Homo sapiens: one gene and its partners. The protein of the gene in region 3 binds, or shares a complex with, the protein of the main gene of each other region. Each region holds a gene or a part of one and is shown on either strand. Other genes may lie near its edges.

What was found.
Region 1: ING5 (region 3) and KAT6A share a complex: the UniProt entries of both Homo sapiens proteins name them as parts of the MOZ/MORF complex.
Region 2: ING5 (region 3) and JADE3 share a complex: the UniProt entries of both Homo sapiens proteins name them as parts of the HBO1 complex.
Region 4: ING5 (region 3) and KAT6B share a complex: the UniProt entries of both Homo sapiens proteins name them as parts of the MOZ/MORF complex.

What each region holds. Positions count from the first base shown.
Region 1 is NC_000008.11:42,048,971-42,056,844, reverse strand, and holds the start of KAT6A (histone acetyltransferase KAT6A), read left to right. Parts: upstream 1-4,857; 5' UTR 4,858-4,944; exon of another isoform or gene 4,945-5,095; intron 5,096-7,542; 5' UTR 7,543-7,867; coding exon 7,868-7,874. UniProt on the Homo sapiens protein: Histone acetyltransferase that acetylates lysine residues in histone H3 and histone H4 (in vitro). Component of the MOZ/MORF complex which has a histone H3 acetyltransferase activity. May act as a transcriptional coactivator for RUNX1 and RUNX2.
Region 2 is NC_000023.11:46,907,845-46,915,619, reverse strand, and holds the start of JADE3 (protein Jade-3), read right to left. Parts: upstream 3,200-7,775; 5' UTR 2,901-3,199; intron 1-2,900. UniProt on the Homo sapiens protein: Scaffold subunit of some HBO1 complexes, which have a histone H4 acetyltransferase activity.
Region 3 is NC_000002.12:241,696,786-241,705,148, reverse strand, and holds the start of ING5 (inhibitor of growth protein 5), read right to left. Parts: upstream 3,111-8,363; 5' UTR 3,084-3,110; coding exon 3,047-3,083; intron 2,682-3,046; exon of another isoform or gene 1,483-2,681; coding exon of another isoform or gene 1,266-1,482; intron 497-1,265; coding exon 425-496; intron 1-424. UniProt on the Homo sapiens protein: Component of the HBO1 complex, which specifically mediates acetylation of histone H3 at 'Lys-14' (H3K14ac) and, to a lower extent, acetylation of histone H4. Component of the MOZ/MORF complex which has a histone H3 acetyltransferase activity.
Region 4 is NC_000010.11:75,018,342-75,025,751, reverse strand, and holds part of KAT6B (histone acetyltransferase KAT6B), read right to left. Parts: intron 5,171-7,410; coding exon 4,939-5,170; intron 4,627-4,938; coding exon 4,467-4,626; intron 4,020-4,466; exon of another isoform or gene 3,961-4,019; intron 3,872-3,960; coding exon 3,521-3,871; intron 795-3,520; coding exon 503-794; intron 1-502. UniProt on the Homo sapiens protein: Histone acetyltransferase which may be involved in both positive and negative regulation of transcription. Required for RUNX2-dependent transcriptional activation. May be involved in cerebral cortex development.

The DNA of each region.
Region 1 (7,874 bases), on a different chromosome or scaffold from region 3:
AATTCTGGGCATAAGGCCAGAGTCTGAGTTTTGGTTCTGAGTATAGAAAGAGGCCCTAACAGGCAAAGACACCACCAGGGATGATTCTGTCAGTTCAGCAGAGTTGGAGAGACAAACTTAAGAACAAGAGGGGCCAGATTCCCAGTGAGAAGGGAGGGGTAAATAATTGAGCCCAATAATGTCAGTCTCCCTCAAGTCATTTTCCAAATTCTGAAGATGCATGAGACAGAAGGTTAAGAAGCTTAGCAGAAAGGCTCTGAAAAGCAGAGTGAAGAGATTTTGACCGTCTCATGGTTTTGCAGAAACAAGAATTAGAGTTCAGTATCCACTGGGATGAAGGGTCCCAGGGAACACACACGACTCTCAGTTGGAACCCCTGGAGGCTTATGCTACTGGAGCAGCAGCAAAAAAGAGGTGAATTAAATCTTGCCAAAACCCAACCCCAAGTTAACTCAGTCTCTGGTTGATTAAGGTGGTTAGCTCTCACTCTAAATGCTTTGCAAAGGACAGTAGGAATCCTTCTCTGGATGATGATAATACTATCCAGAGCCTCTGCAATTTTTCATACTTGAAAGTGTGACATCCTATTAAAAATTCTCAGGCAAGCTAAGAGCCAGGAAAAAAAATGACCGAAACCAATGGAAAGAATATACAATAGAAATAGATCCACAGAAGATTCAGCTATTGTAATGATTGGAAAGAGCTTTAAAATATCTAGGGTTAAAAAAAAATCTAGGATTGATATGTTCAAGAAAATAAAGGCAACAGCAGAGAAAATACATATATAAATAAATAATTTCTCCAAATGAATTTGATTTTAAGAATCGTATGAAAATTCTAGAACTTAAAAATATAATAAACAAAATAAAGAATTCACAAATGGGTTTAAAAGTACACAATTAAATAGAAAATATACCGACTCATGCATAGAGAAAAAAATGGGGGAAAAAAGATGATAGGAAATACAGATGGTAAACAATGAAAAATTCTGACATATGTATAATTTAAACCCTAAAAGGAAAGGAGAGAGAAGAGACAGTGATCAAGAATTTCCTAAAAGATATAAACCCACAAATGCAAGGGACTCCGCATACACCCATTGCACTCATGAACCCAAGTAGGATAAATACAAAGAAAACCACATCTACACACGTCATAGTAAAGCTGTTGACAACCAAAGACAAGAAAAAATCCTAAAAGGAGTCAAAGGAAAAAAGACATTACTTTCAAAGGAATAAAAGGGAGTGACAGAAACCAGAAGACAATGGAAGAACATCTTCAAAGTGCTGGGAAAAAAAAACCAAAAAACAAAAAAAACTTGCCAAATCAGAATGCTATACCCAGCAAAAATATGAAGGATAATGCAAAGTTTTAGGCAATAAAACCCCACAAAAAACAAAAAGCAAAAACTCAAACAACCTTGGAGAGAACTTGTCATCAGCAGACCTGCTGTAAAACAGGGGAATTATTCAAATAGAAGGAAAACCTTCAGACAGAAGCACAGAAATGCATATTGGAATGAAGAGCAATATAAGGATAAATATGGAGGTTAATCTAAATGAGTACTTATTGTACAGAACAATAAGTATAAATTCTTGTGTGGCTTAAAATACACACACAATTAAAATCCTTGACGACAATAAACACAAAAGGGAGATGGGTAGGTGGAGATACAGTATTTTAATGTCTTAGCATTCCCGGGGAAGTGGTAAAAGTAATTATTTTGTATAAGATCATAAGTCAAAAAGCAATGTTGTAATCTCTAAAACTAGTAATGTATAATTTAAAAATTAATAGAGGGGGTTAATGATATAGTTAAAATATTTTAATTAATTCAAAAGAAGGCAAAAAGCAGAGAACAAGGAATGTGAAATAGGTGATCCAAAATAAATGGTAAGATGGTAGGCATACATCCACATATACCAGTAATTATATTAAATGTAAATGGACTAAAAATGTTTCCTGTTGAAACCAGGACAGAGCAAACTTCCAATTTCAGGCTGGCATGGACTCTGTATAAGACACAAGTACCAAGTACAAGTGAAAAGGCAGGGATTCCTAGAGCAAAATATGCAAGGGGGAAATAACCTTTAGTTGCCAGCTCCACAGGGCTGAATCGTGAGTAAAGTTTGAGCTAAGAAAAACTATCCTTTCAGAGTGCAGATTGCTTTTTAACTTGCAAATGATGAGGACTTTAATCCGTCTTTGTTGCAAGATTTTTATTTTGAGAAGACCTCCTGAATGTGCCATTTAGTTATGCAAATGTAAAGCAGAGACTCTTTATGGAAGCTGTGTGAAAAGCTCAACTGTGCTTTGTTGTTATAAATTGTTTTAAATTCTTGCTACTGTTTAATCCCCAGTTTGGTCTTTTCACAGGATGGCTGTGGCTAGTTTTCTTCCAAATTATCCAAAAGTAAACACAACTCATCTCTGTATTATTTTTCTTCTGAAGGCCACACACTCTAGTCTCACATGAAGAACTCATTGTCTTTGCATTAATATGACTTTATCTGCCCTCTTTGGGAAATAAAAATCTGCCTATTCTACTAAAAGAAAATACATATATATATATATATATATATTTTTTTTTTTTTTTTTTTTTTTTTTTTTCCTGGAGGTGATTTCATTACAAACAGGGACCATTTTACCTGAGAATGTGTCTATCTGATTCATCTAGGATGAAAGAGATCCTTTCTATTGGATTATCATGTATTCCAAATTTCTCTACTGCTTTGGAGATGGGGCTTGGAAGTAGGCGATGAATGGCAACTCAGTCAACCTCACTACATTACACTTCTGTTTCTGTCAGTGTCAGGATATTGATTAGGCTGGACCATGATCTGAAAAGTTACGTTATTCTTACTGAATGGTCCAGAGTCTACCGTATGGAGGGTAGGGCTATGGATTAGAGTGGAGACGGGATAGATAGAAAAGTTTGGGTTCCCTCTTGCTGTGTCTCTCAGGCTGGAGTGTAGTGGCGATCATAGTTCACTGCAGCCTGGAACTCCCGGGCTCAAGCAGGCCTCCCGAGTAGCTGGGCTACAGCAGCGCCCCGCCACAAACGGCTTTCTTAACGGCTTAAAAAATTGTTCATTCACGAGCAACATTTTTTTATTTTAAACCGCCTACTACAGTACTTGTACAACATTATTCTAGGTGCTGGAGATGCAGAGTCATTATAGGAGAGCATTTACCAGTGAATGTATTCGGAATATATATATATATATATATATATCACATGTAAGTGCAAAATGACTAGAGCAAATGATACTACTACAGAAGTTCAGAAAAGGAAGTCAGCATGGAAGTTAAGGCAGTGGGTGAGAGGGAGGCCCTTAAAAGCTAAAGCTGAGATAAAATGAGGTATTGCGGGCGACAGTCTAGGCGGGGTGTGTCGTATGGGGTTGGGGACAGGGCAGATAAAGGTCAGGCAGCAGGATACACGTCCATGTCAACGATTAAACATTTAGTGTCTTTTTCATGTCTACTGTCTTTCTAGTGAATGCAGAAAAAAAAAAAATGCATGACTTGGCCAGGTGCAGTGTCTCAGGCCTGTAATCCCAGCACTTTGGGAGGCCGAAGAGGGCGGATCACTTGAAGTCAGGAGTTCGAGACCAGCGGCCTGGCCAACATAGTGACACCCCGTCTCTACTAAAAATACAAAAATAAGCCAGGCGTGGTGGCGGGCGCCTGCAGTCCCAGCTACTCAGGAGGATGAGGTAGGAGAATCGCTTGAACCCAGGAGACGGAGGTTGCAGTGAGCCAAGATCGCACCACTTGCACTCCAGCCTGGGCAACAGAGCGACACTGTCTCAAAAAAAAAAAAAAAAGTATGACTCAGTCTCTGCATCAAAGAGTTTAAAGTAGATGAAAGGCAAGACAAAGAAACGTCCATACAGCCAGTAGTGGACAGGCAGGCCATGAAGAACCGCCTGCTCGTGGTTCCAACGCCCTAAGTATGGACAAGAGTTCCGCACAGGGCAAGAAGGGAAGACCGGCTTTGGAATAAGACAAATCTCAGTCCCAGGCTCAGGTGCGCGCCACATACTAGCTGTGTGACCTTGTCCAAGTCACACGACCCAGGTCTGTGGAGTCTCCCATAAAATGGCTCTAGTGAGCTCCAAGAACCCTCTCAGCTGCTGGGGGAGGGAAGAAATGAAGTCACTGCTGAAAGGGGTTAAGACGGGTGCTTCTGGTTCCACCCTCTCCCCAACTCTTCCCACCGACACAGGAGAGCCGTCGGGGGCTGAGGCGAGCTGCCAGGGGTGAGGACGGGAAGCCGCCTCCTCTCCGCCCCCCAGGCCCCGCCCTCGGGCTCCGGAAAGTCGCTGTGCAGGCAAATGAGTGGGGAGGGAGGGCTCACTAACTGTAAACAGACGCCGCCGAGAGTTCCCATCCTGCGTGGCTGCCGGATTTCCGTGCCACACTGAAGCCACCCCACCCAGACTCCTGCCCTCAGTTTCCCCAGCGGTGGCATGGGGTGCACCAGCTCCTCCTCTCCCGGGTCGCCGTCTGACTTAAACGCGTGAGACGGGAGAGGAGGAACCCCCGCTCCCCAGCCTCCAGCCCCACCAAGTCCTCCTCCTCCCCTGGCTTTGGCCTTTTGTACCGGCCCCACGTGACCCCGCCGGCCGGCTCTTCCCTGCTGCCCCGCCCCGCCCTCCGGCCTTTCCCGGCTCTCGGCCCAGCTCTTCCCGCTCTCGGCCGCCCCCCACCCGCGCTGCCGGGCCTCCGCCTCCCCTCGCCGCCCGCCCAGGCTCTTCCAGCTCCCTCCCCCAGGCCGCCGTTCCCTCGCGACGCTCCCCTCCCCCCGCGGCTGTTCCGCCGCCTTGCCTCCCCTCCCCCCGGCTGGAGCTCACTGTCTCCAAGATGGCGGCCGTGTCAGTTTGGGGCATCTCCGCGGTCCGGCCCGGGGCCCCGGGATCTCGGCTGTCCTTCCTCCCGGTAAGTAGCCGAGGGGCCGTTCCCGGCCGCCCCCGGCCGCCCAGCCCGAGGCCGAGCCGCTCCAGGGCCCACTCCGCTGCCTCGCGGGGTCGGCGGGCCGCTGCAGGCCCCGCCGCGGCCTGCGCCGCCTCCCGCTGCTCTGCGCCAGGCCTCGGGCTGGGGCGCCGTGGCCGCCCCCTCGCGCCCGCCCGCTCGCTCGCTCGCTTGCTCGCTTGTTCGGCGCCCGGCTGCCCCGGCCCGCGGCCCGCGCGCCGCCGCCCGGCCCCGCGCTCGCGGGCCCCGCGCCCCCGATCCCGCCGGCCGGGCCCGCCCTGGGGGAGCCGGCGGGTGGGCGGGCGGCGAGCGGCCCAGGCCGCGGAGCCTCGGGCTGGCGGAGCCGGCGAGCCCGCTCTCCCTCGGGGCGCGCCCACCCGCCCGCCGCGCGCGTGCCGGCTGTGCCGGGCCGGGCCGCTTCTCCCCGCGCTCGCGGGCGCTCGGGTTCGGGCTCGGGCTCGGGTTCCGGCTCCGGCTTTGGCTCCGGCCGGGGGCGCGGGGATCCGAGCGGGGCTGAGGCGGCGAGCGGGGCTGACAGGCCGGCGGGTGTTGTGGTGCGAGGCGCAGCACGTGTGGTGTTGTGTCTGCCGGGCTGTCAGCCCAGCCGCCGAGGGGAGGCCGGGCGCCTGTCAACCTCGCGGCTTGGCCCGGTGCGCGACTGTCAGGCTCCCAGCAACCCGCGCCGCCCTCGAGCCGGCCCCCAGAGCTTAGGGTGCGGAGCTGGGCCGGGGCTATGCACCGCTCTGAACTCCTTCACGTGATTTCATTGTTAACTTGTGCTCGGGGTCTGTTTCCATCGCGTGGAAACGGTGCAGCGCCCCGTCGGCGAGCTGCCGGGCTGTGCAGATCCAAGTTTTTAAAGTTTCTCGCTCTTTGAAAAGAGAGCGCGAAGACGTGTTTAGGGGTGGGGAATGGGGACGGGAAGGACTGTCGGAAGCGAGTTGCGCTCGCTCTAGCCGCTCGTGTACTTTCCGGGAGTTAAGATCCGAGGCTGCAGGCGCTTGACTTTCCGAAGACCTGGAGACTGATGACAATCCCGACTGGAAAGACAATGAGTGACTGTCACTCATTCTTTTACCTGCGAAGCTTAGTCAATTAGGACGTTCGTTCCCAGCTTGTTAAACTCAGGATGTAGCTTCTCATTTAGTTTAGACTTAATATCTGTATAATGAGCTTACTTGGAGTAATGATACTCTGATTTCTATCCTCTTGAGACCCTCACCAAATTGAAGCATGATTCTCCCAGGGGGCTTCTTTTTAGGCAGCTGATTTAAAAACAAATCTTGGCTCAGGTTTGAATGTTTGCTTCACTCTTTTCTTTCCTATCAGAGTTAATAGTAATATCTCTTTCCTAGTGTGTATTAGTTTTCCGTTTGATTTTAATGTCACTACCAAGAATAGTTGCTGTGGGAGCCATTTGTCTAGCATTGTTTATATTGTAATGCAAATGATCTCCAGAATGAGAGCAGAAGTTCTAAAAAACACTTCAGTTAAACTTATTTTTGGAGGCAAAAGAGTTAGATTCAGAATTCAGTACTTTAGTGATTAAACAAGATTGCATCTACCAGATTCTTTTATAGGGATACTGACTTTGATTCAGAGAGACAGTACATTTCTGTTTATGTTTTATTAATGTTCGTTTCAGGACAGCAATCTTGAATTTATATCTTTATTATTTGGGCTTCTCTTTAGTCCTACAAGTAGCCAGTGTATTTCTTTTTCTGTACCGTCCGTTTGATATGTAGTATGTGCGTTGACCCCAGTGATTCTGGGCCTTCCTCATTTCTAGTTTTCCTGTCTGAATTACTTACACGCAGTTTGACAGTTGTGACTCTCTTCAGCATATGAATAGAAACATCTTAGTTTGGGTTAGGAGAAGCTATCAGCATGTAATTCTTAAAATTTGAATGAAAGTGGATTATTGTTAAATTCAGTAAGCACTTTTACTCTAGGCTATTTTCAATAGTATTTTTGTTTCCATTAGGAGAGATTAAGGTAATACTGTACTTAAATTATAAACTGGGTGTGCATATTGTATTCATTCTTTTCATGTAAGAACTAAAATTTTCTCAGTCGTTTTCTGCCTTATTGACTGTTTTTGTCTACTCTGAATGTCTAGAATTTTGAAAGATGAAAGATTCACTTTTACTTTCATTGCAGGATTCTTTCTACTAATCCAGATACTTGTTGAAGTGCTGACTAGTTTCTTGGGGAAAGATGTCAAGGAAGAGTTGAAATTCCTAGACTGGTGAGCAGAGATTGCGGAGTACAGAATAGCCATCACCCACTCTGGTTAGTGGTAGCTTAAAGGTCATTCTTAGAACATGTCATCGTGTTTCCTCATTGTATCCTAATTACTCATCTTTTTTTTTTCTTTTCTTTTTTTTTCTTTTTTATCCCAATGGTTTACATACATGATTGTTTTGGAATATTAATAGATAAGTTTGGAAATTCTTAAGGGTGCCTAGTAAACACTTGCTGTTTGATTGCTTTATGATGAGGATGCTTATTTTCATTCGAAATAGGTCTTGGTAGAAAACTGACCTTATTTTCATTGCTTTTCAGGCATAAGATGCACATTTTTCTGCTCTGGAGCCGGGAATGAAATATTCTTGAGTTCTTACAACTTTATGACGAGACCCATGTGTGGTGCTATTGAGAAATTCATTGGGAAGTTGGAAGACATTTCAATCAACAGGTTGTTTTGGTTTCTATAGTACAATTGGGGTGGCATTCTGTTTTGTGAAAGGAGGAAGGACTTAGGCCAGAAAACTCATATGCTATGGTTAACTGGTTCCCAGCCTCCGAGAATCTTGTTTTCCATGGTGTAAAACTTACTCAGCATCAGGATAAGGGATAACGACTCTATGGATATACAGAATCCTTCACCATGGTAA
Region 2 (7,775 bases), on a different chromosome or scaffold from region 3:
TGGTAGTTATTTGGTTTGTAATGACCACTTACTTGCTAGTACCCGTTTATTTGTTCATCACTTTTACCCATTCACCCTAGATCCTCCCCACCATACAAACCAGAATGTTTCAGCTTTCCCAGCCACTGTAACTGGAACAACAGAAACTTGTGAGCCATTAAAGTGTCCCCATGTTAGGAGAGTGCCAGACAGGTGTCACCTAACACTCACTTCTCACCTATATTGTGGGACAAGTCAAGATCATAGTAAATCATACCTCAATGAGAGATTTTCTTAATGTAAGACAGCATATTACCTCTGTCTTCTCAGCTCCTATTTTGTGTAAGCTCCACAAGGAGGTAGGTGCATTATGTCCCCTGATAATGCTCAGCTTCATTTTTGGACTGGCTCTCTGTAACTCTGATCAAGGCTTGTAAGAGCCCTCCCTAATGCCATGTCTTTACCAGCACCTGATGCCTCCTACCTCCCCCACCTCTTCCAAAATACTTGCCTAGTTCCAGCCAGACCTCAAAGCAGTGGGCAGAAAGAAGATATGGCTTTGTGTAGGTTAGGGGAAAAAATGGGTTGTTATGGTTGGTGGAACACAAGAGAGGGAAAAGACAAGCATTATTAAAGGAGAGGACAATACTAAACCTACAAGTCTTCAACACCCTTTCTTCTTTAACTTTCACCAATCCATACTTCTTAGCTATGATGCCAGCCCTGCACCATCACCTGTCCTGCTCCTGGGAATCTCCCCTACGGGCCTGAAGGTGGGTCACAACACTTCAGGGAGGAGTGGGAAGCCTTTCTCTACTTTTTTCTACCTATGACCAGATTCACATCGCATTGCCGAGGGCAAGCAACATGACTCAGAGAAGAGGGGAGAGAGAAAGTGTGAATTCTAGAGCCAGACTTGCACCCCTGAGTATTCCAGAATTGACTGGACAGAAAGCAAGGCAACAATATTGGGTTAAAAGCTATTCTCTAGCAAACAAAAGCATAAAGAAGAGCACAACTGGAGAAAAGGTGGCAAAGATGGTGGCTAACATCGATTGAAAGTTGAATACACGCTGGGCACTGAAACACTTCTCAACGGTCTCAGGTAATCCTTGAAGAGAGGGTATTATCCTTTTACAGTTCAAGTATTTAAGCTCAGAGCTCACTTTAAACGAAAGAGAAAATGATATGTTATGGAGGTAGAATACTCTTAGGTTAAACAAAAAAGAAAAAAAATCTATTTTTACGTATCCGAAGAGTAATCACATGATGCTACAAAAGCATGAGAACCACACTACTCAAAGGGTACGAAGGCCGGGACCCATACTCCCATTGTCTACAGATGTTTTGGAAGTATTAAACTAAATAAAAACACAATGCTTTGTTCAGACCGACTCCTCTCTCAGCCCTACTCTTTCCCCCTCCCAGCCTAGGCTGACAAGAAGTGGCTAAAGGGAAAGTATTTAACAGGAGAACTGGTCTGGGAAAGTGGATTGTGGGTTGCTTAAACTAAGCAAAGACGTTGTGCAACCAGTTTTTACCTAAATTATTTTTCATTACTTCCCAAGTTTAGAGAGCAGCAGTTCACTTTATCAGACTGAACACAGGGAATGAGGTCGCCTTTCCCTCCAGGCCACCACTGGAATCACCTTCAACACGGTTTTGACTTCTTACACAATCAGACGGCGGGAGGGGGGAATCTCATCCTCAGCTTCATAGATAAACGCACCTCACGGCACACACACACAAACAACTCGCGCACATCTGAGGCCACGGATTTCCTTGCAACTCAAAGTCGGAGAAGCGGCCAAACAAGTTTCTTGCCAAATCCCTAGTAGCCACATATGTCCCAGGGCCGCACAGCGATAAAAACTTTGAAACATGCCTCCACATACCACCATTGTGGTCACTCACTCCAGATCCCGCCACCCCCTCCTCACAAATAACAAACTCAGGCTGCCCTGTGCAATTTAAAGCTAGACTCCACCGAAGCACTGGCTCTGCTGTGAAAAGCGGGAGAAAAAGATTGAAGGCTATTAAAAAAAACAACAAACAAACAAAAAACAAAACAAAACAAAACAAAAAAACAAACTACGGCCCCCGGGGCGGAGGGAATAAAACGAACTCGAAAGCTGGAGAAAAGTTAACTTTGCCGTGCCCAGCGGTGGGAAAATTTCCCCGGAAGACTAGCAAAGCCCTCACGATTTTCCCACCCCCGGACCGCCCGACGCTCGGCGGCCACGGACCCGCAGTTCGAACAATGCCGCCAGTGGGAGGGAAAGTTCGCCAGCCCGCCGGGCGCCCGCGCTCCCGCTCCCGCCGGGTGGGCACCCGGGCTTCCCGGGGTGCCTCGCCGCACCCAGCACCACCCGTTCTCCCCTCTCCAGGCACTCGGTTCTTTCCGCCCCCCAACAGCTAAACAGCCAGGGCGCGCCCTCGCTCCCTGGAGCATCCGACCCCTGGCGGCCGACAGAGCAGGTCCTCCCGCCACGGGTCTGGCCCCGTCAGCCCCGAAGCCAGGCAAAGGGCAGGAACGGAGGAGGGGGCGCCAGGAGGGGGCACCGGAGGAAAGAGCCGCAACAGTTATGGCGCTCAATTCCTGCCCGGTGTAGCCGGGAGCTGCAGCCGAGCTCGCGCGTCCGCCCCCGCCCCCCGCCCGGGCCACCAGGCACTACCCGGGCGGGCAGAGGGGCCACCAGGCACTTTACCTCAGCCCACACACGCTCTCGGCCCCAAGGCGCCGGGGACGCCGGAGGCGACCACGATGTGGAACCGGAGCGACCCGGAGCGCGGCGAGGCCGGGCCGGGACTGTGCGCTCCGCGCCGCCCGCTTCCACTCCCGGAGGCCGCCGCTCCCGCCGCCCAGCCGGTGCGACGCCCCCAACCTCGCCCGCGCCGGGTCCGGCCTCCGCGGCGCCTACCTTCGCGCAGCTGGCTCGCGGCTCCTGCCCGGCTCCACGCCGCGGCCCGGCAATGTGCCGGGTGAGTCCGGTCGGAGTGGTAACCGCCCCCCTAACCGCTCGCTTTCTTCTCTTCCCTCCCTCGCACCTGCCCCTTAATCCCCTCCTCGCCCCCGCCCCCCGCCGGGGCCGCCCCCCGCGCCTCAGCTCCCGCCCTCGGCCCTCGTCCGCCCGGCCCGTCAGGCCTCAGCGCTGGGCAGGCGGTTGGGCGGCGGCGGCGGCTGAGGCGGCGCGGAGCACTATTGTATTCCTGACACTGTGCGCTCCCACGCTCCGCCTCTTCCCTTTCCTTCCTCCCCCAACCTCTCCTCCCACCCACCGCCGGCCGCGCTCGCCCTACCGGAGCGGCTCCCAGCCGTCTGCCCGCCGCGCGTTCTTCTGGCGGGCTGGGCGCCGTCGCCACCCGCCGCCTCGACGCCCCGCCCACTCGCCGCTCCCGCACCCGCGGCGCCGCGTTCCAGGTGGGCTCCCCTCCCGTCCAGCTGGGTGCGCCACTGCCCGAGACGCCCCAGCCCCGCCGAGCGCTAGAGAGGACGAGGTGCAGATGCCTCGGCTGTGTTGAAATACAAACTAAGCTTTTCATGGCCCCTTCCAACTCTGAAGTTCCAAAGTGGGACTCTCATACATCAACTCGGTGGCCGCTATTGATTTATGTCGCTTGTGCTTGAATTACCTGTAATAATAAAGCCAAGGTGGCTATTAACATAATTCATTTATTCAGTTGCCAGCACAGGTGGTTTGTGATGTTGTGTGGCTTTTTCGATGTGTCCACTGGTTAGGCTATCGCCCACAGTTATTTGATCGAATGCCAATCCAGGTGTTGCTCTGGAGGTATTTTGCTGATGTAATTAAAGCTCCTAATCAGTTGACTTAAAGTTAGGGAGATAATCCTGGATAATCTAGGTGGGCCTGACGGAATCAGTTGGAAAGCCTTTCAATCAGGGCTGAGGGTGCTGAGTACGTCAGAGAAAGAGAATTTCCCCTATGGATGACACCTTTGGCCTATGTCCATTGGTTCCAGCCTGCTCCTGATCTTCCCTTCCTGACTGTATGCCCTACAGATTTTGGATTTACTTGGCCACCATAATCGTCTAAGACAATAGCTTCGAAGAAATGAATGAACAGGGAGTATATATACGTATATTCCCACCACGCATTCTTCTGGCAGGCTGGGCACCGTGGGTGTATGTGTGTGTGTGTGTATATATATATGTATGTGTGTGTGTATGTATATATATATGTGTGTGTGTATATATATATGTGTGTGTGTGTATATATATATATATATATATAATTTCCTACTGGTTCTGATCCTTTGGTTGAATCCTAATATAGATGTTTAAGCAACAAACCTTTTTGGCTTACCTCTCTGGGTTTGGAAATGTGCTATATGCAACTATGATGAACTCATTCTCTTTCTTTTTTCTTTTCCTTTTTTTTTTGAGTCAGGGTCTCACTCTGTCGCCAGGCTGGAATGCAGTGGCTCGATCTCGGCTCACTGCAACCTCTGGGCTCCCTGTCACCCAGGCTAGAATGCAGTGGTGAGATCTCTTGGCTCACTGCAACCTCTTGGCTCCCTTCAACCTCCACCTCCGGGGCTGAAGTGATTCTCCCACCTCAGCCTCCCAAGTAGCTGGGACTACAGGCACATGCCACCATGGCCCAACTTATTTATTTATTTATTTATTTGGTAGAGACAGTTTCACCATGTTGCTCAGGCTGGTCTTGAATTCCTAAGCTCAAGCTATCTGCCTGCCTGGGCCTCCCAAAGTGCTAGGATTACAGGCATGAGCTACTGTCCTGGGCTATTTTCGTTTACATTTCTAGGATGAACAATAATGTAGGCTCTTTTGTATTTTGTCTGTTTTCCATGTTAAAGATCTAGTTATATTCCATAATATGGAAATGCGTGAGTTCTAAAATATTCGTAGTCCTTCAGACTTATCTCACTTTATTATACTTATTTAAAAATAATTATAGATTCATCAGAAGTTGTAAAAAAAAATGTACAGAGTGGTCCCATGTACCCTTTGCCCAGTTTCCCCCAATGGTAATAGATAACTATAATACAATATAGATATTAACATTAATACAGTCCACAGACCTTATCCAGATTTCATCAATTTTCATGCACTGATTTCTGAGTCTGTGTATATAGTTCTGTGCAATTTTAACACATTTAAATTTGTGTAATCACCACAATCAACTTTTTCTCCACCACAAAGATTCCTCCTGCTACACTTTGTAGTCACAGTCACCGCTTTCTCCTCCTCTAATTTCTGGCAACCCCTAACACGTTCTCCATCTCTATAAATTTGTCATTTCAAGAGTATTACATAAATGGAATCATACCTTTTGAAATCAGCTTTTCTTCACTCAGCATGATTTTCTTGAGATGTACCCAAGTTTGTTGCATGTCTCAATGATTTGTTGCTTTTTATTACTGAGTAGTATTCTGTAGTATGGATGTCCTACAGTTTGTTTATTCATGCATTGAAGGTCATTTGAGTTGTTTCCAATGTCTGCCTATTAAGAATAGAACTGCTATGAGCATTAATGTAGAAGTTTTTGTGTAAACATAAGTTTTCATTTCTCTGTGACAGATGCTCAGGAGTGCAATTGCTGGGTCAGATGGTAAGTGTATATTTAGTGTTACAAGAAAATGCCAAACTTTTCCAGACTATACCACTTTATATTACCACCAGCAATGTATAAGAGATCTAGTTTCTCCACATCTTTGTCAGCATTTGGTATTGTCACTATCTTTTTCTTTTAGCCATTCTAATAGGTGTGTAGTGATACCTCATTGTTGTTTTAAATTGCATTTCCTTAATGGCTAATGCTGTTGAGCATCTTTTCATGTGCTTATTTGCCATCTGTATAACCTCTTTGGTGAAATGTCCGTTCAAGTCTTTTGCCCATTTTCTAATCAGATTGTTTCCTACTGTTAAATTTTGAGAATTCTGTATACTACATTCTAGATACAAGTCCTCTGTCAGATATGTGATCTGCAAATATTTTTCCCAGTTTGTAGCTGGTCTTTTCATCCTCTTAAGAGATTTTGCAGACCAAATTTTAAATTTTGATGATGTCCAATTTATCAATTTTTGCATTTATGTATCATGTTTTTGTGTCATGGCTAAGACATCTTCATCTAGCTCCAGGTCCTGAAGATTTTCTCTTATCTTTCCTTCTATAAGTGTTATAGTTTTATATTTTACATTTAAGTGCATGATTCATTTACTTTTTATATAGGATCTAAACCTAAGGTTGAGGTTCATATTTTTGTCTATGGTTGTCTGATGGCTCAAATAAAATGACTACTTTTCCTCCACTGAATTGCTTCTGCACGTTTGAAAAAATCGATTGGGCATATTTGTGTGGGGCTATTTGTGTGGGGCTGTTTCTGGGTTCGCTATTCTGTTCTATCGATCTATGTGCCTATACCTCTGTGAATACCAGTCTTGATTACTCTAGCTATATAATAAGCCTTAACATTGGGTAGAGCACTTCCTCCCACTTTATTGTTCTTTCTCAGAATTGTTTTAGCCATTCAAGGTCATTTGCCTTTCCATATAAATTTTGGAATGAGTGTATTCTGTATCTACGAAAACCTTGCTGGGATTTTGAAAGAAATTGTGTTAAGCCTATAGATCAGTTTAAGGTGAATTGACATCTTTACTATTGTATATTGAATTTTCCAATCCATGAACACGATATGTCTATCTCTCCATTTATTTAGATCTTCCTTGACTTCTTTCGTCAGCATTTTTGAATTTCCAGCATACAGAACCTATGCATGTTTTGTTAAATATATACCTAAGTATTTCATTTTCTTTGTCATGATTGTAAGTGGTATTGTGTTTTTAATTTGTCTTCACATTCATTGGTCATTGTTAATATATAGAAATGCAATTAATTTTTATGTGTTGATCTTGTTTCCTCTGACCTTACTAAACTCACTTACTAGTTCTAGGAATTTTTCAGCAGATTCTTTGGGATTTTCTATGTAGACAATCATATTATCTGTGAATAGGGACAGTTTTATTTCTTCCTTTCCAATCTGTGCGCATTTTATTTCCTTTTCTTGCCGTCTTGTTCTAGCTAGAACATTCAGTACAATGTTGAATAAGAGTGGAGAGAGTGGACATACTTGCCTTGTTCCTTATCTTAAGGGGAAACATTGTCTTTCGCCATTAAATATGATAGTTGCAGGTTTTTTGTAGATGCTCTTTATTGAGTTGAGAAAGTACCTCTCTATTCACAGTTTGCTGAGAGTTTTTATTATGAGTGAATGCTGAATTTTGTCAAATGCCTTTTCTGCATCAAGTTATATGATCGTGTGATTTTTCTTCTTTAGCCTGTGGATATGGTAGATTACATTGATAGAATATTGATTTTTGAACCAACCTTTCATAGCTGGAATAAACCCCATTTGGCCATAAAATAATTATTTTTATACCTTGCTGGATTCTATATTGCTAATGTTTTGTTGCAGATTTTTGTGTTAAAGCCCATAAGAGATAAAAGTCTGTAGTTTGGGGGAGATTTTTGCTACAGTCCTTGTCTGGTTTTGGTATTAGGGTAATACTGGCCTTATAAAATGAGTTGAGGAAGTTGTGCAGAAAAGAGTTAACATAACAGGCTCTTGGCAGGCATCTGTGAACTTGGATTTCAGGAGAGCTCTCATTGTTCCCAGAACTGATAAGAATGGCTAACTATATCTAAGCTGTTTGTACAAATGTTATTTATGCTGGGACTAGAACTCAAGTCTCCTGATTCTCAAGCTGTGCAGAAAAGAGTTAACGTGAAAGGCCTCAGTGCTATCCTTTGAAA
Region 3 (8,363 bases):
GAGCTGAGATCACGTCACTGCACTCCGGACTGGGCGACAAAGCAAGACTCCGTCTCAAAAAAAAAGAAACGGAGTTAAATATCAAACGGCCAAAAAGTACTACCAAACTTTTAAAACAATGCACGCACTACACACTTTGAAAATTGAAAATATTTAAAAGAAAAAATTGGCAATAAATATTTTGATTGGAAAGGGTGATGGTTATAAAAACATGATATAAAGATGTGTAAGAACCCAAGAAACAATGTGGCTTCAAAAGTATCAACACCTACTGCAAGACACTGAGTGATACCCACGGCCCAGGGCTAGGCCAATGCCCCACTAACCTGGGTCCCCTCAAAACCCTCTGCCCCCAGCCTTCAGGAGCTGCTGGCTCCCACCTGTCAGAACTCAGTTCTGGTTGTATGGAGAGGTCTGAACCCACCTTCCGTCCTCTGGTCCAGCTCTCGCATCAGCTGGAAGTTCCTCTGAAGTTCGCAGGGAAGGTTCTCGATACCTGAAACGCAAAAACACAGAAGCCATGTACCTCTCAGCAGCAAGACAAAAATTCACCTCCAAAGGTTTTCTGTCTTTTTTTTTTGAGATGGAGTTTCACTCTTGTTGCCCAGGCTGGAGTGCAGTGGTGCGATCTTGGCTCACTGCAACCTACACCTCCCAGGTTCAAGTGATTCTCACGCCTCCGCCTCCTGAGTAGCTGGGATTACAGGCACATGCCACCATGCCCGGCTAGTTTTTGTATTTTTAGTTGAGACGGGGTTTCACAAGGTTGGCCAGGCTTGTCTCGAACTCCTGACCTCAGGTGATCCGCCCACCTCGGCCTCTCAAAGTGCTGGGATTACAGGTGTGAGCCACCAGGACTGGCCAAAAGTTTTATACTTCAAGTCTACAAGCCCACTCTGTATTCTGTCTCTGTCAGGGTTTGCGGAGCGGAAGGACTGTGATCTCATTTTTAGATGCAGGTACCAAACAGTGCTGACAAGAGGCTGTGTGCACACTTCGGAAGCTGTCAGAAGTCAAAGAAGGGAGAGGGAAACTTGGAAACCAACAGCACAGGCAGGGGAGGCCAACTGACCCCACCCTCTAGGCTGCCCCCCCTCAGTGAGCAGCATCTTCCAAGGCTCAAGCCAAAATCCCCTGGGTCCTCCTTGATCTTCCCCTACTTTACCCAGAAATCCAGTGCATTGAGCAGTGTAGCCACGCTGCCCACGCGACTTTATGCAAGGATAGAAATGTTTCCTCTCTCGGATGGGCGTGGTGGCTCATACCTGTAATCCCAGCACTTTGGGAGATCAAGACAGGCAAATCAGTTGAGGTCAGGAGTTCAAGACCAGCCTGGCCAACATGGTGAAACCCTGTCTCTACTAAAAATACAAAAATTATCCAGGCGTGGTGGTGCACAGCTACAGTCCCAGCTACTCGAGAGGCTAGGGCATGAGAATTGCTTGAACCTGGGAGGTGGAGGTTGCAGTGTGCTGAGATCATACCCTCCAACCTGGGCAACAGGGTGAGACTCCATTTCAAAAAAAATCAAAAAAAGAAAAAGAAAAGAAATGTTCTCTCTGAGCTGCCCAAGACAGTGGTGGCCATAGGGAGCTACTGAGCACTGGAAATGGGACTAACGCCATTCAATTTTTAATTTTACTTAAATAGTCCCTGTGGCTAGCGCAACCATTCCCCACAGTCTGCCAGGAGGACCCCCGTGCTGCTTTCGCGTCTGCTTTGTTACCCCCTAGACCAGGCCAACCTCCGCCCCCTGCACAGCTGACACAGGCTCCTAAGGGGGGCTGCCTCCTCCAGTCTTGGCCACCCTCCCATCTGCTGTTCACAGTTACCAGGCAATCATTTTAAACCTAACTCTATCTTATGCATCTGATGCTTCCAGCCCCAGTGTTTTCCCAGCTCCCCTAGAGGACAGAGGCACAGCCTCCCGGCTGGCACAGCCTCCCAGACACACACAAAGTCAACCCTCCTTGGGAGGCCAGCCCACTGGCTGGGCACCAGGATAGAGAAGGCCTCCCCTCCAGCGTGCTCCCCAGCTTGACTCTTCTACCCAGGGAACCCCCCACTACTCAGACCCCCAAGAGACAGCGGAGCACATGGGCAGAATCGGGCGTCCCTCTAGGGCAGCGGTCTCCAGCTCCAGGCCACGGCTCACTCGCCACTGTCTCAGCCCCTGGGCGGGTGCCAGGCCGAAGACCATGAGGATCCCCAGTGCAGCGCCCCCACAAGGGCCCTCCAGAGCCACCCGGCACAACCCCAAACACCGCGACCCCAAAGCTGTGCCCATCCCGGGCCGACGTCAGGGGTCCCGCGTGGGGTCTGCCCCTCTACGAGCGGGAGACCCTGAGCAGGCTGCTCGGCAGCGCTGGACCTTCCCTGGTGTGTAAAGTGAGGGAAAGCACCGTCCGCTCAGCCGCTGGGGGCGCCGACCTGCTGCCACCTGGAAACAGCACAGCCCGCCCACCAGGGCCGACTCGGCACCGCCCTCCCCGCCTCCGCGCCGCAGTCCCCAGTGCCGGGGAGAGACGCCCCGCGGCCCGCACGCCCTCCCCAGCCGCGGTCACACAAGAGGCCGGCGCACACGGGCGCACAGCCAGGCGGAGGCCCAGACCCCGGAGCCCCCAAGGCCCGGAGCCCCGCAGCGGGCGCCAGCTCCTCCTGCAGACGGGACAGGGACGGGCGGGACCTGGCGGGGCCGGGGCCGGAGCTGGGGGCGGAGATGAGGCGGGGCCTGGGTAGGGGCGGGACCTAATATGTGGGCGGGGTCGAGGCCGCAAGCCCCGCCCAGCATCGCCAGGCCCCGCCCCGCCGTGACGCACCTGGAATTGGCGCGACCCAGCCGGCGGGACCCCCCGCGCCCGCCCCCCGCGCCCTCCCCTCCCTTGCGGCCCTGCCCCGCCCCGTCCGCGCGCCCCCCGTCGCGCCCGGCCGCGCCCGCCGCCCTCCCGAGCCCACGGGGTCTGCATGCGGTGCCCGGCGCGCGGGGGGCTGCGGCACGGAGGACTCCGCGTGGGCGGCGGGCGCGGGGCCCGTGGGGCGCGCTTACTGTCCAGATAGTGCTCCAAGTACATGGCGGTCGCCATCTTCGTCCGCGGCCGCGCTCGGGGTCTGCGCGGGCGGGCGGTGCCGCGGGAGGCGGGGGCGGGGCGGTGCCAGCGCGCTCACTATTCATGAGTCGCGCGCGCTGATTGGTCGCGCCCGGGGGCGGGGTCGGACACGCCTTTCAGCTTCCGGCGGGCGGCGGGCTGCGGGGCCCGGGCGGAGGTTGTGGCAGCGGCGTCGGGCAGCGAGCAGGACCCAGGGCCGCAGCGGATCGGAGGCCGAGGAGGAGCAGGGGTTCCCGGCCCCACCGCCCGGCGTGCGGCCCAGGGCACCCAGGTGGGCGTCTCCCCTCCGCACCTGTCAGCGACCCCTGGGCCACCAAACGCAAACACGTGGTCCCGGGGACCTCACGCCCGTCCTGACGGCGCCCACGCGACCCCTGCTCCCGGCCGGGTCCCGGACAGGCCGCCACGAGGCCCTCCCTTCCCGAAGGCTCCTTGGGACCTGTCTGGCTCAGCGCCTTTCCCCCGGACCCCGAGCCCCCGGGGCCTCAGCCCGGCCTGAGCCGAGGGCCGGCACCGCGTGGCCCGGGCGAGCTGCCCCTCCCTCAGGGCCTGGGCCCTGGCGCCCTTCCCCCGCCAACGCCGCCCCTTCCCTCCGAGGAAAGCGGCCGCCCCGCCCAGCACCAGTGAGGGCACTGGCTCCTTTGCTGCCACCTCTCGAGGCAGGCAGGACCCGCACCATCTGGATGCCTTGGCCGAAAAGGCACGTGCGGCAGTATGATATAGTTAATAAGATGGCGTGCAAAGGTGTGCCGTAAGATGCATGCAAAAATACTGGAGAAGGCCGGCGCGCTGGCGCACGCCTGTAATCCCATCACTTTGGGAGGCCGAGGCGGGCGGATCACTTGAGGGCAGGAATTTGAGACCAGCCTGGCCAACGTGTTGAAACCCCGACTCTACTAAAAATACAAAAAAAAAAAAAAATTAGCCAAGCGTGGTGGCGCACGCCTGTAGTCCCAGCTACTCCGGAGGCTGAGCCCGGGAGGCGGAGGTTGTAGTGAGCTGAGATCGCGTCTGCACTCCAGCCTGGGCGACAGAGCAAGACTCTGTCTTCAAAAAAAAAAAAGAAAATTTTAAGAAAAAAAAAATACTGGAGAAACATAATTAAAATATGTTTCAGACTCGGCACGGTGGCTCACGCCTGTAATCCCAACACTTTGGGAGGCCGAGGCGGGCGGATCACTTGAGGGCAGGAATTTGAGACCAGCCTGGCCAACGTGGCGAAATCATGTCTCTACTAAAAATACAAAAATTACCCGGGCGTGGTGGCGGGCGCCTGTACTCCCAGCTACTCGGAGACTGAGGCAGGAAAATTACTTGAACTTGGGAGAGGGAGGTTGCAGTGAGAAGAGATCATGTAACTGCACTGCAGCTTGGGTGACAAGAGCAAGACTCCGTCTCAAAATAATAATAATACAAAAACTAGCCGGGCATGGTGGCAAGTACCTGTAATCCCAGATACTCGGGAGGCTGAAACAGGAGAATCGCTTGAGCTTGGGAGGCGGAGGTTGCAGTGAGCCGAGATTGCACCACTGCACTCCAGCCTGGCCAGCAGAGCAAGATTCCATCTCAAAAATAAAATAAAATAGGGCAGGCGCGGTGGCTCACTCCTGTAATTCCAGCACTTTGGGAGGCCAAGGCGGGAGGATCACGAGGTCAGGAGATTGAGACCATCCTGCCTAACACGGTGAAACCCCATCTCTACTAAAACTACAAAAAAATTAGCTGGGCATGGTGGCGGGCGCCTGTAATCCCAGCTACTCGGGCGGCCGAGGCAGGAGAATGGCGTGAACCCGGGAGGCTGAGCTTGCGGTGAGCCGAGATCGTGCCATTGCACTCCAGCCTGGGCGACAGAGCAACACTCCGTCCCAAAAAAAAAAAAAAAAAAAAAAAACTTAGCCGGGCATAATGGCTGGTGCCTGTAATCCCAGCTACCCAGGAGGCTGAGGAAGGAGAATCACTTGAACCTGGTACGTGGAGGTTGCAGTGAGCCGAGATCGTGCCACTGCACTCCAGCCTGGGTGACAGAGCGAGACTCCATCTTAAAATATAAAATAAAATAATTTAAAGTGTTTAAATATTAGTCTTTGGGGTGATTCTTCTCTGCCTCCAAACTGTGTAGCATCATCATGCAGTGCTCACCAGTACCCATGTCACTCCTCTTCCCACTTCACCACTGGACGCCCCCAAGCTGGGGATCAAACTCATCTCTGGCAGGTCTTTCATGGGTGAGGTGTGTCACTTCCCAGTCCTGTCTCCACTCCCTGTGATCTCAAGAGGACGTCCCAAAGGCTCCCCGAGCCCCAAGAACTGATGACCACTAGATGTAACGTGTAGGCCCCAGAACCCCCCGCCCCACCCCCAGCCACATCCTTGACTTCCGAGATGCAACGTTGCTGGTCACACAAATTAGCATAAGCTGATCAAAGGAGCAGTACTTTCATTATTTAAAATGCATTTTTAAAGATATTAAGCCAGCTGCTGTGACTCAAATCCGTATGATCACCATGAGAGGCTGAGGCGGGAGGATGGCTTGAGCCCAGGAGGTCTAGGCTGCAGTGAGCCATGATCAAACCACTGTACTCTTGCCTGGGTGACGGAGACCCCCACCTAAAAAAACAAGCTATGTCCCCCTTGGTGGACTCTTCCCTAAACCCCAGTCAAATATTGAAAACCAGAAACAATGTTTTTGCCACTATTATGTTCATTATAAAAATTCAGGCCAGGCATGGTGGCTCACGCCTGTAATCCCAGCACTTTGGAAGGATGAGGTGGGTGGATCACCTGAGGTCAGGAGTTTGAGACCAGCCTGACCAACATGGAGAAACCCAGTCTCTACTAAAAATACAAAATTAGCCAGGCGTGGTGGGCATGGGCCTGCAATCTCAGCTGCTCGGGAGCCTGAGGCAGGAGAATCATTTGAACCTAGGAGGCAGAGGATGCAGTCAGCTGAGGTCATGCCATTGCACTCCAGCCTGGGCTACAAGAGCAAACCCCTCCCCCCCCAAAAAAAAATTCAGCTGGGGTGGTGGCTCACGCCTGTAATCCCAGCACTTTGGGAGGCCAAGGTGGGTGGATCACCTGAGGTCGGGAGTTCGAGACCAGCCTGACCAATACAGAGAAACCCCATCTCTATTAAAAATACAAAAGTAGCTGGTTGTGGTGGTAGCTGCCTGTAATCCCAGCTACTTGGGAAGGTGAGGCAGGAGAATCACTTGAACCCAGGAGGCAGAGGCTGCGGTGAGCCAAAATCATGCCATTGCATTCCAGCCTGGGCAACAAGAGCAAGACTCTGTCTCAAAAACAAAAAAATTAAACAATACAGGAACTTTTAGCTTCCCACCTCCCCAGGGGGCAGGACTGTGATTGCCTTGTTCAGCTTTCAGTCCTAATGTTAGCAGTTTGAGTGCATCCTTACTGGCCTCATTTAATTATAGACTATTTTTCCATCAGTTTTAGGTTTATTGAAAAGTTGAAGAGAAAGTAGACTTCTCATATACTCCTCCACACACACACACACACACACACACACACACACACACACACACTCCTCTATTATAAACATTTTGCATTAATGTGATACATTTGTTACAATCGATGAAACAATATTGATACTTTTTTTTTTTTTGAGACCTCAAATTAGCTGGGCTCGGCTCACTGCAAGCTCCACCTCCCGGATCCACGCCATTCTCCCGCCTCAGCCTCCTGAGTAGCTGGAACTACAGGTGCCCGCCACCATGCCCGGCTAATTTTTTGTATTTTCAGTAGAGACGGGGGTTTCACCGTGTTAGCCAGGATGGTCTTGATCACCTGACCTCATGATCCTCCTGCCTTGGCCTCCCAAAGTGCTGGGATTACAGGCGTGAGCCACCACGGCGGGCCCGATACATTATTATTAACCAAAGTCCATCATTATTTCCATAAGGGTTCATTCTGCCTTGTGCTTTTTTTTTTTTTTTTTTGAGATGGAGCCTGGCTTCTTCGCCCAGGATGGAGTGCAATGGTGCAATCTTGGCTTACTACAACCTCCGCCTTCTGGGTTCCAGCCATTCTCCTGCCTCAGCCTCCCAAGTAGCTGGGATTACAGGCAGGCACCACCACGCCTGGCTAAGTTTTGTATTTTAAGCAGAGATGGGGTTTCACCCTGTTGGCCAGGCTGGTTTCAAACTCCTAAACTTAGGTGATCCACTGGCATCAGCCTTCCAAAGTGTTGGGATTACGGGCGTGAGCCACCACGCCCAGTGCCTTGTGCATTCTTATAGGTTTTGACAAATGTATAATGTCAGCTACCCCCCATTACATGTCATACAGCATAGTTTTGTGGCCCTAAAAATCCCCTGCGCTTCCCGATTCATCCCTCTCCCCCTCCCGAGGCCCCTGGCAACCACTGATCATTTTACTGTTTCCAGTTTGCTTTTTCCAGAATGTCATGTAATTGGAATCATACAGTATGAGCCTTTTCAGAATGGCTTCTTTCACTCAGCAATATGCATTTAAGGTCCCAGCGTGCCTTTCCGTGGCTTAATAGCTAGTTCATGTTTAATTTGAAAAATATTCCAACGTCCGGATGTTCCACAGTTTACCCATGTACTTTTTTTTTTTTTTTTTTTGAGACAGAGTCTCGCTCTGTCACCCAGGCTGGAGTGCAGTGGCAGGATCTCGGCTCACTGCAAGCTCCGCCTCCCGGGTTCATGCCATTCTCCTGCCTCAGCCTCCCGAGTAGCTGGGACTACAGGCGCCCGACACCACGCCTGTCTAATTCTTTGTATTTTTAGTACACATGGGGTTTCACCGTGTTAGCCAGGATGGTCTTGATCTCCTGGCCTTGTGTTCCGCCTGCCCCGGCCTCCCAAAGTGCTAGGATTACAGGCATGAGCCACAGCCCCTGGCCACCCATGTACTTATTAAAGAGCATCTTGGTTACTTCCAATTTTTGATTATTATATTATTATTATTATTTTGAAACGGAGTCTGTCTCTCTGTCACCCAAGCTGGAGTGCCGTGGCGCAATCTCGGCTCACTGCAACCTCCGCCTCCTGGGTTAAAGCGATTCTCCTGCCTCTTCCTCCCAAGCAGCTGGGATTACAGGTGCCTGCCACCATGCCCAGCTAATTTTTGTATTTTTAGTAGAGACAAGGTTTCGCCACATTGGCCAGGATGGTCTCTATCTCTTGACCTTGTGATCTGCCCGCCTCGGCCTCCCAAAGTGCTGGGATGAGAGGCATAAGCCACCACACCCAGCCTTGGTTATTATTATTT
Region 4 (7,410 bases), on a different chromosome or scaffold from region 3:
TGCCCAGCTTAGTTTAGATGAATCTTTATAGTAGTATATACTACGACACTACTGATTATAAAATGTACTATTGATTTACTAATATTTGTTTTCCAGGAAAAAAGAAACGATTCCATTCAATGCTCACACTGATAATAATATATACCTTGATTTCAGAAATAACTAAATGTGAAAAAAAAAAGTACATATTAGAATCAAAGAAATGTAATGTGTTTCTTGTCAACAGACTTCAAAGTTTTTGGGGATAAGCCAATTTCTGGTAAGTAAGATGAACCCACCTAGAGGAATGTTCTGGCCTTAGAAGTTGTTTAACATAAAATCCAATTCCAGGAAGAAGGGAGAGAAGCTTGTAAGGATGGGAAAGGGCAGATGGGCACTTGCTCCAGGTGCATCAGCACCACTTCGCAGGTGCCTCTGGGCATCACGCCAGAGGCCTGCTCTTTGGCACCCAGTCAGATACAGACATTCTCAAGGGTAAGGTTTTTATCATTCCTCTACTTACTTCTACAAGGGTCAGCATTCTTGAAGCAATGATTGTCTTTTCCTTCCTCTTCCTCTGTTTGTCTTTTCTTCCCAGGCTGATGCTGGAATGCTTTTCTCAGGACTGGCTTCCTGCCATCTTCCTCCACTTCAATCTCACAGGTAGGCTCCAGCTGTGGCATTGGCCTCTCTTCATCTGAGTTGTCAAAGGGCTCATTCAGTACTTCTGTCGTCTCTGAAATGGTCTCTGTTGTTACACTGCTGTTGATCCTCCTGCGTTTACGACCCCTTTTCTTCTTTAGTACAAAAGGCCTCTGAAATTAATTCCAAACATAACACATAAGAGCTCATGAGAAATTAAATGGTTGAGTCGATATGCAGTAGACATGTACTGAACGCGTGTCTGAGAATCTTACACGTGGTGACTTCTGTAATGCCTTTGTACTTAACCTTCCATTTGATGTCTAACATCCCTCTCGGGCTCCAACTACACAGGCAAGTGTTTTCCAAATAAAACAGTTGTTTACTCAAGCAGATGCTCTGAGAGGGAACATCCTAGCAGCTTGACTGGAGATTTTAAAAACTAAGCTTTGCTTTTCTAGCATATATTTTTCCAATGGTACTTGCTGGCTTCAATATTCCTCACATCACAGACATTTAAGGTCATCACAGACTCTAATGTCTTTATAAATGGTGCTGTAATTAACTAGCCACTGGGTTAACCCATTTAATACTTGAGAACTCTTGAAGGAGCACCCACTATGTGGACAGCACTGGGAAATATGATACAAGACCAGCCTACTTTTTCTCATTCCATAGGACTTCAGGGCTATGAAAAGGAAAGGAAAGGTACCTGAAGAAAGGATTACTGTTTAAAATGTTAACAAAGTCAAGTATTGGTGGCTGCTGAGATGTGAGCAACTGATAACCTGGCAAAATATTTTAATAGAAGGAATCTAAAAATGTTAAAGACATGCCAGATGTCTTATTTGTATGATATAAAAATATTTTTTTCTTTTATTTTTCTTTTTTGTAGAGACAGGGCTTTGCCATGTTGCCTAGGCTGGTCTCGAACCCCTGAGCTCAAGTGGTCCACCCGCCTTGGCCTCCCAGAGTGCTGGGATTATAGGTGTGAGCCACCGCACCTGGCCTAAAAATATTTTTTCTGTTTGCACTAAAGGTTGGCACAAATGACTGTCCATAATTGTAATTATAAAATGTTTTTCGCCCAGCAAAAAAGTTTTTAATGACACAAAATTCAAATAGAGGAATAGCAGGTAGATTTGCTGCTAAGATGTAATTGTTGCCCCCCAAATTATTGAAAATACACTGCAAAGAAGGGTTCAATATGCTTGGTTAAAAGCTAACCTTCAGGTAAACTGTATTCAATTATTATTATTATTATTTTAAAAATACTTATTTATTTTTTATAGAGACAGAGTCTTGCTTTGTTGCCCAGGCTGGTCTTGAACTCCTGAGCTCAAATGATCCTCCTGCCTCAGCTTCCCAAAGTGTGGGGATTATAGGCGTGAGCCACTGTGTCCGGCCTCCAAGAATTCTTGTGTCTTACTTTTGTTAACGCTCTGAATGCTCACTGAAGCACACACGTAGCCAGTTAATCATATTCTGTAATTAAACATTTACGGTTATTATTCCCCCCAGTCTGCCTGCCCTCTTTAATCCATGAGAATTTTCCCTAATATGAGGGAAGCCAAGGTAGAGAACTGGTTTTCTTCAGGTTGAGTCCAGTTCAGATCATGCCTTGGATGATTCTGGTTTTTGATAGTTTTAGAACAAATTTCTTTTATTATATATACAACACATGAATACACACTCCTCCTAAGAAATGGAAACATTATTCTTAAGCCTGAAGTCTACTTTGTGGGATGCTCCTTTCTACCACCTCCCCATGGAGACCCTTCCAGAAGACTGCCAGGCCTAGAAGAGCGCTGAGCTGGGAGTTAGAACAGCAAGTTCCCTAACAGATGCCACATCAGATGGCCTTGGGGCGGAGCCTTAGCTTGTATTGTGATATCTCTATCAGTCTTGGCTCTCCTCTATGTCCCAGATAGATACTGAAGACAAAGATATCAGATCTGGGTGAGCAGTTACCTAAAAACAAAGTCAATTCTTTACTTTCTGTACCATTGGAGATGATATGGTCTATCTAGAGACATCACTGGGCTACTAAGATCTGAGGAGATTCAGTAATGCGCAGTTGGCCACAAATGCAAAATATCACCATCAAAATTAAGGGCCTAAAATGCTTTCTAACAATTCTGTGCCAAGAACAAGAGAAAGAAACAGCATGAAGAGCACTGGGCTTGGAGTCTTTTTGTTCTGTTTTGAGACAGAGTTTCGCTCTTGTTGCCCAGGCTGGAGTGCAATGGTGCGATCTCGGCTTACTGCAACCTCTGCCTCCCTGGGTTCTCCTGTCTCAGCCTCCCGAGTAGCTGGGATTACAGGCGCGTACTACCGTGTCTGGCTAATTTTTTGTATTTTTAGCAGAGACGGGATTTCACCACGTTAGCCAGGCTGGTCTTGAACTCCTGACCTCAGGTGATCTGCCCACCTTGGCCTCCCAAAGTGCTGGGATTACAGGCGTGAGCCACTGCGCCCAACCCAGGCTTAGAGTCTTGAGCACGCATTTGGTTCTGCTTCCATCTCTAATGAGTCATATGACCTTAGAGAAGTCTCCTGGCCTCTAGGTCTTGGAGGGTGGTTTAAGTGCTTTCTGGGGCCCCTTTTTGTTCCCATAAACCTCAGTTACTCTACTCCTGCAGACCAGCAGGTGGCAGTGACTACTAGACTAGGAGGCTGGCCTGTCCCTGGTTTCCTGTCACCGCACTAACAAACCTGAAAAGTAAACATAATCATGACTGTGAGATAAACGATTATGATATATGATCAGCGGGACTGGGTACACATAAACTACGACTAAAGAACAGAGAGTGAAACAAATACTAATAGACAGAATGTCTGCAATGACAAATAAGATTTGATTGAACGCGACTCACAGAAAATCTAAACAGACACCTACCTTTCTCTTTATGGCAACTGACTGTGGTTTCGTCAATCTTGGGGGAGAGCTTTGAATATTTTCTTCTTCTTCTTCTTCTTCTTCCTCTTCTTCCTCCTCTTCATCCTCTTCCTCTTCTTCCTCCTCTTCTTCCTCCTCCTCGTCCTCCTCCTCCTCTTCTTCTTCACTGCTCTCTTTAGACAGCTCCAGCAGCTGCCCTCGCTCCCCTGTGACTGGCCGGCTCTCCGGGGAATGCAAATATTTATTTTTCGATTGTACTTTTGCAGGTGATTGCCTACTGTTAGCTCTAGTTGACAGGATTTCTTGTTCCTCCTTCTCCCAGCAGCTAGCTTGTTCCATTAGCCGCTCAGCCTAAGTGGGGAGGGTAAAAATGGTGGCCAGTGAGAGGGCAGTTACACAGCCAGAGCCTCTGAGGATCAATGGCAAAGTGTCTCTAAGTCGGTTCTGATCAGGACAGCCAGCCAGCCAAGCACATTCCAGCTGCATCATCTCAGGAACCTTTTGCATCAGTTAGGATAACAAATCAAAGAAGATTGGGTTTCATGGGATATTTAACAGTATTAATGATGCAGCGAATTGATTTGAGTCCTTTATCACTACATTACATGCTCACTGGCAAGGAGCACTTTAAGCAAGTTCATAAACACAAAGAATCAATTGACACTGCAGCCTTGGAGCTCAGCACCGAATTTGATCTGATTACATGCTCTCAGTAGTGAAAAATGCTGCTTTGTAATCAATGATAAATGTTTCATTTTTCATACTCAATTCAATAAAATTATCATGTCTTACCATGCAACCTCAGTTAGGATAAATTAGTGCCATATCATTTCACATGCTATCTCTACATAACCAAGCTTTTGACAACGATCTTAATGACTTTCTTAGCTTAAGAATGCTACAAGATTGAAGTTACACAACTTAGGATGATAAAGACAATCATTACCTCTTTCTCAGCTTCTCGCTCTTCTTCAGACACTGCAGCATTAGAAATTAAAATTGGGGTCCACCTCAGACTGTCTGGATCAAGTTCATTGGCTCTGGAACAGGTTTTCAGCTTTTCCATGTGGCTCAATATCAACTTTTCCCGTCTAATGATGACAAATCTGTAATGTGATAAGGCAGAACAAGATGTAATCACAAGCTGAAATTTCACTTCAGCTTCACATACGGACATATGCTAGCACTAATGTTATCTGCGTTAGGAAAAATCAGAAAGCACCTCAATGAGAGGGTACAGAACACTGGAATCCAACCAGTAAAAAAGTGTCATTTCATGTGTTATTTTTAGGAGAAAAGGTTTGATAATACTGTTAGGGAACCTCAGTCTTTAACTGGAATGAATGCACCTATCTCCAGGGACCCTTTCTGGTGTGGGATGCCTGAGCCACGGAGCTGCCCAGGGTCCCAGGACTCACCTGCCATCTCTCTTGTCGATCATGTGGAGGTGCTGCAGAGTGGTGGCAATGTCATGTGGGCACATGCCCGTCGCTCTGCTAATTGCCTTGATGCTGATGTGCCTCTCATGGTGGTGGTAGAGATACTCCAAGATGACGCTCTTCCAATATGCCAGGTAGGAGAGACGGCCCAGATCGGAGAGAGGCTTTTCAGGAGACCCTGCTTGGCCTTCTCTTCTAGAAAGCAAATAGCCTAGGGCAGAAAAAATAAATGGGCATTCCTCACTGTGGCATTCCCAGAGCTTAGAACAGGAGCCACTAGAAATAATATGAGTAGTGACAAGGTAAAAACATCACAACAGAGAAGTGCATTCGCTTTAGGAATGTAGCCTCTTCCCAGTTATAGTGATTTGATCTCCGTGAAGTTTACGCTCCTGAATCTTTGACAGTGGCACTCTAAGTCAATTCACGCAGCTAGCAGCAGCATTCCAAACACATATTGTGACATATTTAACAAAGACTAAAAGCTATGGTTGAAGACATTACTCCTGCTAAGTCTCAACATCTAAGTCTCCCACAGCTTTAGATTCTTTCAAAAACGAAATGTCAGGCACTTACTCAGAAATCCTGTCGAGGGACCACCCCCAACATTAATGGGCAAGTTGTTTTCCACAGGAAGGACCTAATGACCCTTTGACAGCTGGGTCTTAATAAAAAGAGAAGGACCTCTGTTGACTCAGAGTCTATATTGCTTGTTACATTTAACTAGCAGGTTGATCTGAAGCTTTGTTTTAGGACTAATAAAAGAATGTCTTTCAAGTCAACTGCTGCAACTCCCATCAGCTCCACTAGCTCCATTTTCACCTCTTTCATAGAAATTAATTTACAATCCAATCCCAGAATATTGCTCCTACAAATTAAGACAAAACAAAACAAACTCCTTAAAACAACCTATTGCATGTATGCTCAGAAAATCCCCCAGCATCTTAAGCTTTTGAACGCATTTTACAGCATTACTGTGAAGGTTCCTTGGCAAAGGAACTTTAAAAATGGAAAAAAAAAAAAAAAAAGAAACCAGCCCTTTAAATCCACTTGAAGGTAATGAATGAAAGCTGGCGGCTGTCTCAGTAATTAAGAGCCACTTATGGGGTAGAAAAGAAATGCTATAAGCTAATGATGTCTACCTTGCTCTAATTATCTATTTCAACAGCCTCACCTTCATGAACTTCCTAAGTTTAAACAAACATCAACCACATACAGTAGGTGGCAGCAATGACAAAATCATACGGCTCCATAAACCACCCAAATCTTCAGCATTTTTCTTCTTTATCTACATTTCCAAAATGGCTGCATTCTCAAGAATTTTCTCAATTTTAGGGTTATTTTTTGTTAAAGAAGAAATCAATGCCTCTGATGCATTTTCCTGCATCTCAAAATCACTGCAAATACAGTAATGCAGAAATACAAAACAAGAATCCAGCCTGAACCCTCGAAGGGTATAATCACAGCATTTTGCATTTTGATGGCTTTAATCTGAATGCCATTATGAAGAATAGGCGTAAATTTAACTTCAGGTTTTGCTAAGGTCTTTTGACTTATTTGTCTCTTTAACCCATGTTTAAGTGCAAAGTATTTGACTGAATGCAAACAAGCACCGCAACATTTTACAGTGAAACCACTGTCTACATGTAATTTGGCAGCAGATTGGGGCTTTCAATAGCAGTGTGTCAGGAATGCTAACACAGTGATGGCCACTGTGCCGAAGCCAGCCCATATTGTGTCCTGTCAACACGAAGAAGAGCTCTCTACGTCTCTGTGTTGCCAGAGTATGAAGGGAGCCCACACCTCAGAATACAGATAATTGGCACATCCGTCACCTGCCTCCAAAGTGCTTGGCACATGCTGAGAAACGTACCCAGGAGGCTGGGGGGTCCCAGCTTTGTACTCCTGGGGGGGTGAGAACCATAGAGCCGTGGATATAGAACCATTCCCTTTTGTCCATGAGATCCCACAATTGAAAGTCCCCTGCAGTGAGTGTGAAAGTCCCCAGGTCCTCTACTGGTGCTTATTTGAATCCAGCAGTCAAGGACAGAAAGCCCCACTCCTCTCAGCCTTGCTGAAAGAATTCTGTACAACCAAAGTGTTCATACCAAGGTGGTATGTGCCCCCCCATACCTTATGTCCCCCACTATGATGGGCCAGCTTACCCAGAAGCACATGTGTTCCTTTGTTCTGTCTCCCCGCTACAGTCCCTAATCCGGAAGGCAGCAGCAGCCAGCATCAGAAAACCCACGCTTTCCGCAGCTGTTCATGCTTTCACACCCCGAAGTGGTGCACACACACCCTGTCAGGGCCTGAGCCTAAATGGGTTAGGCCACTCAAACCAGCAGGCAACTTGGGGTCCATGGGGAGCATTTAGGCATAAACCTTTTAGCACCTGCTACTCCTACCATGTTAAGTGGCTGTCTCCTGAGACACTCCCTTGGACACAGA